Regions from separate parts of the Homo sapiens genome. Here region 2 is linked to region 1. Evidence: fine-mapped expression QTL. A gene starts in region 1. The other region holds a variant in brackets. All regions are shown on one strand. Distances are between the middles of the regions. Region 1 holds the start of GNG11 (G protein subunit gamma 11). Region 2 has its middle 23 kb from the start of BET1-AS1.

Region 1 (4,397 bases):
CTCCAAATGTGAGTAATTGCTCCTCTGATACATTTCCTTCCATAATCAAGAGGACATGTTTGATAAACATTTAACTACAGCCAGAATGCAACTTGCAAGTTTTGTCTGGGCCTAAGTTAAGGACTGAACACGTAGCCCAGATGTTAACTATTTATTGACTGAATAATGGACTGGGAATGAGAAGAAGAATGTTTTAGTACCTGCCCTATCACTATCTATCTCTGTGGTCTTAAATGTGGAGCTAGTTAGCCTTTGTGGGACTCAAGTTTTTTTTAATCCTTAAAGTGAGGGAGATGAATGATCTCTAAACATTCCAATGCTTGCCTAGCAATAATAATGTATAATTCCAAGTGTATAATCAAATGTCTTAATATTATTGTTGAGATTTAGATGCCTCTTTCTGTATTTCCTAAGGTTACATATATCCAAAGTTTTTTCTCCCTCTGGCATACACTTGAGGTTTCTGGAGGTGGGAAGTTGATGCCACAGGCCGTGTCCTAAAGGGTCAGGCTGGCTAGCAGGGAGAAACTGCTAATGAATGATACAGTCAATTTTTACATAGTCGGTTGCATCCACATCACTTAACTTAAAACTCTGAGTAAGTAGAAGACGCTTGTCTTTTTTCCTAAGTTCTACACAGTGATACCAAATATTAAGATATTAGAACCTTGCATAGACAATGCTGTACTTCAGCATATGAAACTCTGTTTAATATGTAACTCCTAAGGTTTATTGTGTGAACATATCTAAGTGGCCAGCACTTGCTGTACTGGGAACTTCGCCATCCATAAAATGGGTCCCTTAAGGTTTCAAGAAGCGTGCTTATTGATTGGGTAGTGTAACTTCCTTTTTTTCCCCTTTAAACGCGTTGGTGTTTTTAAAGCTACAAACCCTTAACATGATAGAAGGGACAGCTCATTATAAAAGCTAGGAAGAGCCGGGATTTGGATGTGAAAGGTTAAATTTGAGAAAAGAAATATGTAAAAAGTAAAACACAAAAATGCCTGCATCTTCTAATCATCACTCAACAGTGAAGACTCTTGCCCTTAACAGATTTATTATAACTAGAACAGGAAGGCAAGTGAGCATATTATAACGCTTCATTTCCATTGTTTTTCTTAATTTTTTCTAGTGCTAAACCATAATAAATAAGATCAGTTCAAAATTTTCTTGCTGAAGAGGAAAGGTTAATTATCTTTAAACAATATCTATTCAAAGACCTTTCCTAGTCTACAGGATGCCTGATTGAGTTAAAACAGGAAGAGGGATTAGTGTCTGAAGGAAGGTCTTGATGACCAGTAAGAAATTGAAGTAAAACTTATAAAACTCCCGAGACGTTTCAGTGGAGAATATTGAATACTGGGTCATATGTTCTCAATGAAATGGTAATCTCTATCAATAGTCTCTAAAACTTTAAAATTGTGATCACTAAAAAAATTTTTCATATGCACCACAGTGTATGTATAATTATTTATAAATAAGTACAGATACTACTGTATTAATCGCATACTAATAAAACATAAAGTGAAAATTATAAAGGGATGAGATTTACAAATAAATATAGAAATTCTAATATTTTGTTCCCAAATTTCGGTGGACTGTTCTTTGCATATCACTGAAGGCCACTGGTGAAATTCAAAATTAAATAATGTACTTGTAAGACTTTAAAATACGGTTTTAGAAAATTTCTTTCAAATATCATCCTTTCTAGTAGTGTAAAAGATCAAAGAACCAAGTAGCTATCCGCTTTTTTCCTACAAGTGAGTTTTGAAAAACAGCTGTCTAATGGAAAGCAAGATTTCTTGTCTATTTTCCCCTTCCTAGGCATCTTAAAAGTTAGGACATTTGGCCTTAAATTACTTATCAGATCCTTGCTCCCTCCTCTACCTCCTAGGATTTCCCCACATCAGCTGGCAGTCCCCAGGCACTGCCAAAGGGTGGTGAGAAGAGAAGCTACAAAAAGGGGGAAAAATAAGCTAAACTATTTGCTTTACTGTTACTAAGCAGGAAAAATCGGACCCTGCTTCATTTCAGAGAAGGAAATATTCCGGAACAGCCAACTTACTTGTTGTCTCTGCAACTTCACTTCTTTGCGAAGCTGCTCAACTTCCATTTTCAGTTTTTCCTTCTCTGGCAAATCTTCGATGTGAAGGGCAGGCATTTTCGCCCCAGAACCGGGCTCGGGCTAGCTCTGGCAGCGGAGCCGCTGGAAGAGCGGCGAAGCTCGGCGCGTCCCGAAACAACTGAAGGCCTGGCCCGCCGCCCACCCGCGCAGGATGTGACTGCAGCCCTGCTGCGGTCCCCAGCTCCCCGAGGGCTTGGCTTTCTCCGGGACGCTTGTCACGCCAGCGTGCCCCAGCTTCCTAGGACCTGAGAACTCTGCCTTTTCTCAAGTCCCTGCAACCCAGGAGGCCTGCCCGGGTGCTAGATGAGGGTTAAGTTTGAGACTGGGTCCAAGCAGCTTCCCGCTGCTCAATCGCCCAGCAGGGATGCTGGCCACGGACAGGCCCTGACTCAGGACCTGCCACGCCCGCGGGGGACGGCTGGGCTGGGGCTGCAGGACTGGGAACAGCAGAAGTTTTACTTTGTGTTCTCCGCGCACCCCCGCTCCTTTTTTTTTTTCCGTTTCCAAGTCACATCCGGGTTTTGTTTGTGAAGCTAGGAAAAGGAGTACACTACCCAGCAGGAAATAACTACCCTTCACCTCTCAAAGAGTTTTAAAAATATGCTAGATATAGCTTTTCCCTAATTACATACATAGGTTGTTGCAAAAGTAATTACTTTTCTCTAATTACATATATAGGTTGGTGCAATTAGTTTTGCACCAACGTAATAAATGCATAGTGGAGAATGCGGACGCTTAAGAAAAGGCTGAAAAGAAAATGAAGCTTAGCCCTAATCCCAGAAATACCCACCAGTGTTCTGCTCATTTGTGTCCATCCGGCTTGTTCGAGGCCTAATATGGGTTTATACATTTTGGGCGAGGAGGGGGCAACAGGGTGTGAATATCGTTTACAAGTTGCAAGAACATTTTCTATTATTAAATAATCATCTGCATCCTCAACAGCAGCAGAGTTTGTATTTTTTTTATTTTTCCGGGGGAATGTTATGTAGAGGGGTGCATCAAAGGATGATATAAGAGAAGACAGAAGCAGGAATCTTAGAGTTCTTAACCGAAAGCCTTTCTCCACTCCCCAACCCTAAGTTTTGGGTGACACTTGACACCAAGGATTTTGAATTCCTGGCTCCTGAACCTTCCTGGATGTAGGCAGTGGATTCATTTAGTATTAGTTTCTCCACTTTCTGGCAAGCACTATTTATCTAGCTGTTGCTCTGGAAAGCCAGGAAAAGTGTCCGATGTGAAAAAAGTTTACATGCAATAAAACTTTCCCTTTAACTGTAACTAAAGTCTTGTTGATGGTGGTCAAAAGAGTAGAAGAAAAATCAAACATGAATGTAAGAAACCTTCCCTAGCAGTTGGATATTTCTCTTTCTTTCCAGAGATAACCTCCTGCCTCACAGAGTCAAAGGCAAGTGAAATATTAACTTAATATTTCAGAGTAGCTGACCCAAGACACCCATGACCATTCCCTGTTTAGGAAGCAGGAGTTTTTGTTCGTTCCTAGTTTCTTACCACGCTCCGCTCAACCTCAATGAATAAATTAGAATGAAAAAAACAATGAACCACTTAATGAATACTCCTGGCGTGTAGTTGCAGCTCTGCCACAGGCCATCACTGAAGAAGTCATTTAATTTTTCTTAGTTTTGGTTTTCTAATTTGTAAAATGTATAGTAAGGCAGGGAAGTAGTGAATCAGCTAAGCTATGTTGTGTCTCTAATTGTGTTGGTATGTCTATATATGATAAATCATTTTCACAAAGAAAATGTTTAAGAGCTTCACTTTCAATATTTGAAATACCAGGGTTTTCCAAGCTCAGAGTAGTTAGAGCATCTACTGAAGTTTACTTGTAAATAAGCAGGGAGACTAGACAAATGTCCATATCTGTCTTGTGCACTAATTCATTTTTAAAATTTTCTATTACTTAAATTTAAAAGGTTGGTCAAAAATACCTTAAATTAGTGAAAGTAATCAACGTGAATGTGGCCTAAATTAAATAGGTTCAGCACCTAAGTTAAATAAATTGGTTAAATAAATTATTGTGTTTTTGTTCTTTTTTTTGTTTTTTTGTTTTTTTGTTTTTTTTTTTTTGAGACGGAGTCTCGCTCTGTCGCCCAGGCTGGAGTGACTGGCACGATCTCCGCTCACTGCAAGCTCCGCCTCCCGGGTTCACGCCATTCTCCCGCCTGAGCCTCCGGAGGAGCTGGGACTACAGGCGCCCGCTACCACGCCTGACTAATTTTTTGTTAATGTGTGTTTGTTCTAAGTCATAAAAATA
Region 2 (4,397 bases), 23 kb before region 1:
GCAATCCCATGGTATTAGCTAGCATCCATGTCTTTGTTGGACATAAATCTTATGCCCCTTCAGAGATGTCCCTCGACTGCCTCCTTCTTTTTCTTTCTTGGTCAGTGCCCCACCTGGATGGACCTGGTCACACCTCTACCTCAAGGCTAATGCTGAAGTTGTTTGAGTTGGCTGTTAAAGATTGAGTAGAATTTTAAAAGATGGAATATAGAAGTAGAAGAATTAATTCCAGAAATCTAAAGTGGCAAAACAAAAGTGCACACTCATAAAAAAAAAATCAAGGCAAATTTTGGAATCAGCAAGTAGTGTGCTTGACATGAGCACAAGCTTTAAAGGTAGGTTAAGCCTGGCTTATGGAGAATTTGGCTGTCAGAATAAGGAGCCCAGTTCTCATTCAGTAGATAATAGCAATCCCATGATGGTTTTCGACAAGAGACATATGGTTTTAAAACAGTGGTTTAAGATGGCAAACCTAAAGATCTTTTGCAAGGTGGCTTTCAGAAAAAAGACTATAGAGACAGGAATATGAAGCTGCAATGTAACTATTTTAAGCTTTCTGTTTTGGGGTGATAAAAGCTTTAATCGAGAAGACAATGGAACCGGGAGGAAGAATGGGGCCCAGAAAACACACTGAAGGACAGCAACTAAATTTGGCATGCCTGATATGCAACAGATGAAAACACAGGTTAAAAAGTCTCCTTAAGGTTAAAAGTAATTGGAAAAAGAAAGTCACTGTTTATGTTCAGAAGGGGAGTTGAAAATGTGAAACTCACCTCTAAGAGTGAAGCCTGGAGTACTCACATTAATTTGAAAGCTGTAAAGAGATGATAGCTGAAAATTTCAAAGTTGAGTTTTCCAAAGAGAAGGACGTAGAGAAGGGGAAGAGAAGAAAGTCAAGAATAAGGCCTTAGGAATTATATAAAATGTTAACAAAGGAAACACAAAAAGAACAAGCAAAGAAGAAATTCATTTTGTGCAGGGCTAGATAAGCCAGAGAAACGGAGCAGGTCAAGAATGCTACTGAGAGGCTAAAAGGAAAAGAAAGCATTTGGCAAATTCCAAGAGTTTAAAAATCCTTGCAAGGAATTAAGAAGAGATTGATGAAACAGCCTGGTGTTTTAACAGACATTGTGGTTAAAGGGGGAAAAATGTTATAATGTGCTAGTTTAAGTAGGGAGTAGAATTGGTGAAAAGTCTGTGGCTTTGCATGCTTGGTTAAAGCCAAGGAAAAACTGACAGCATATTTTTAGTGAGGAGGGGCAATTATTGGAGAGAAGAGACATAATAAGGTAAAGAAGTGACTAAGTGATGAACATTTAGGAAAACGGAAGAAACTAAAGGAATTAAAGGAACTGGGAAAGATAAGTTATTTTAAAAAGGAAGGACACCTTGTCTTGGATATAGGAAGTTATATCGTGGTTGAAAATAGATTAGCTGTGAAGACCTGAGAGCGATGTGCTCAGAAGTCTATTCAAACTGGATGAGATAAACTTTGCAGACACTACTGGAAAAGAAAGATAAGGGAGGAATCAGATCACATGCAGTTATATGTCTCCTAAAATAGCCATGTATTAGGCAGAGAGGAGGGGCTGCCAAAATAGTTTTTCAGCATTTCTTTTGGAAAGCGATTAATGATAAGTTTTGCCCAAATGATTGTATTTGCTATATTTTGGAAAGTCTAAACCTGGGAAAGCAAATAGGTTTAACATGTCATGTCAACTCCAATTGATTAGTAAACCTGCAGTGCTATTGGAAAAGATTATGAGGGCTGTTCTAGCTCGGTAAGAGAGCACTCAGTGACTGATTAGCAATATCTACTTTGAGCCAAGCATAAAGGGTTGATATATTTGCTAACTCTGGAACCATAACTGTAAGTTATTTAGTCCAATTTTCTGACATACAGATCAGAAGCAAGGCCACATTTAGGTATCCATCACAGATTTATATGAAAGTGGAAAAGTCATAAAAAGCCACCCTACTTTAAGGTTCCTTAGCTGAAAGATATAGACCTTGGAACTTGGGATTTGAAACCTACAGGGTTCAAAAAGAAAAAAATCAGACCCCACTCACTTATCCGATCTATTCTTATTCCTTCCAAGTTCATTTGGGACTGGCTTTAGAGTCAAGGTATTGCTCTGTTGCCCAGGCTGGAGTGCAGTGTGTAATCATAGCTCACAACAGCTTCGAACTCCTGGGCTCAAAGTGATCCACCTCCTTCAGCCTCCCAAGTAGCTGGGACTGCAAGCACACATGCCACTATGCCAGGCTAGGTAAATATATTTGAACATTACAGTCAAAGAATTATAAATCAAAGTT[C/T]GCTCTACTATCTCAGATCAATTTTCTGATATTCTTTTCAGCAAGAACAAACACTCTGTTCTGGATTTATAATATAAACATTGATATATTTCTAGAGTATAACTTTATAATCAAAAAGAGTTAACTTTTTGATTAACATTATAAAATTAATGTCTATATTTAATAGTCACATTCTTGTTTTTATACTTGTTGTTATAAAATTCCTCTGCTATTATGTAGTGCATTGTTCATGTGAAACTGTTTTTAAAGGAAGCACAGTTCTGTCTTGATAAATATCAGGAAACTGCCAGATGTTTCCTACTGTCTAAGCCAAACCAGTCAACAGTATGATCATGCTTTAACTAACACGGTCACAAAATGCATACCACCCACAGTCTCTCTATAATACAGAGTCCAGTGCTTTAGCACACAGCAAAATGTACAATTTAAATAGAAAACAAAAGAAAGAAGTGAGGAATGTCATTCTAGTGCAGTTTTAACTTTCTCACTGAAAAATAAAATATACATTAACCATTTTAAATTTCTTAATCCAAAAAGGAATAAACTTGCTTTCTAATATCATGGGACATTTCCTTAAATGGAATAGAATTTACAGTTTTTCCCTTAAAAATGGAGACTTCTTTGAAAGATGAGAAAAAACAAAATGAACTTGTTCAAGAATAATATATCAAGAAAGGCTAGTTACTAAGCAAGTTTCTATTTAACCCACAAGTCGTTGTCATGCCCTTGAACAGTCTGCGTTCTAGCCTCAGTCACCTTGACAGGTGGCGAGAAGGGGAGAGACAAGTAGACTTTCAGACAGAATAAATAGTATCACAGTGACTGGGAGACAGAGAAGCTTAAGATTTACTTAGCTATCAACCAGCTGTTTCTGGATAGGTATATACAGATGAACAAAAGTAGAAAATACTGGCATAGGAGATCCAAAATGTGTGTTGTGGAACCATGAAGCCAAATAGTTTGTACTTAAATTAGAAGGCAAAATAAGGCAATTGAGGGTTTCTGTAAGGGGAAATGTATTTTGGATTGGTGGTGAGTTTCTGCATGCAGAAGGATAAAGAAAGAAGTGTGTAAGACAGGGATCATGGTATGTCTGTGTATAAGAGCCTGAAAAGTGTTGCTATCAAATAAGTTGGAAAAGCTCCAAATGGCAGAGGCAAGCAGAGGAGCATGGTAGGCGAGGTTTTGATGTCAAAGGAGGAAAAGGCTTTGAGTAGAAACCAGATTCCAGTTATATAGAAGGTCACAAGTGAATGAGACTTTCAATACACTGGACTTGGCAGTTGGAAAGTCATAGAGAGAAAGTTGGTAGTGAGAATAAGATTGTAATATTTCAAAAGAAATAGAATTTAATTTTTCTCTTCTGAAAAAATGGAGACTCGTTTAAAAGATGAGAAAGAAATGCATGTATTTAAGAATAATATTATTGTTAAGTATGATTAATTAGTAAGGAATGGAGGCAGGCAAATTATATAATCAATGAAATACCTGATGATAAAAAGATCTGAAATTGAATAAAACCATAGAGAGTATTGCTCTCACAGGAAGCAGGAACAAAGAAAAATTTCTTCTTTTGCTTTGTTGTTACAATTGTTGTTATTATTGATTTAGGTAGATTGTACAAATCATGTTTTTAGGCAGAAAAAAGAAACATAACCAATTGAGGGCAAGAGGTAGAAAATCTAAGACAAGAAGGTATAACTTAGGTCCCAGGAGATCCACAGACACCGGAGTTCAAAAACACAGGCTTAGTAAAAGAAACAAAACCAAAAACAAGAACAGAAAACAACGAGACACTTGTTTCTCCATCGAAAAAGAGAAGGACCAGGAAAGAAAGATGAACAATTAACACATTCTCATGTAGGTAGGAGAAAAATTAGGGGAATGTACATCTGATATTTTCAAACTTTTCCACTGAGTAGACGTGTAGGACATTTGCCAGCAAGATGGCAGGCTGAAATAGTGCTGGACTCTTGAAGAAAAGAGAGAAGGTTTGTAAATGATACAGTAAAGAATTCAAGTGAGAAATAAAAGAACCCCAGTGTGCAGCAAAGGTTAGTCAGGTTTTCTTCTCATCTAAC

Evidence for each region.
Region 2: its variant is fine-mapped to the expression of GNG11 in whole blood (INTERVAL, PIP 0.96).

The regions. Positions count from the first base shown.
Region 1 is chr7:93,919,902-93,924,298 of GRCh38, reverse strand. GNG11 (G protein subunit gamma 11) reads right to left here and starts at 2,564. Exons shown (of 2, transcript NM_004126.4): 1 at 2,066-2,564. The coding sequence starts at 2,161. All of the region lies in intron 1 of LOC105375402 (a long non-coding RNA gene), which reads left to right. RefSeq lists an enhancer at 2,327-2,962.
Region 2 is chr7:93,943,077-93,947,473 of GRCh38, reverse strand. No RefSeq gene overlaps it. Among named protein-coding and RNA genes, the nearest start is that of BET1-AS1, 23 kb to the left of the region's middle. The variant C/T (reference allele first, on the strand shown) is at 2,317.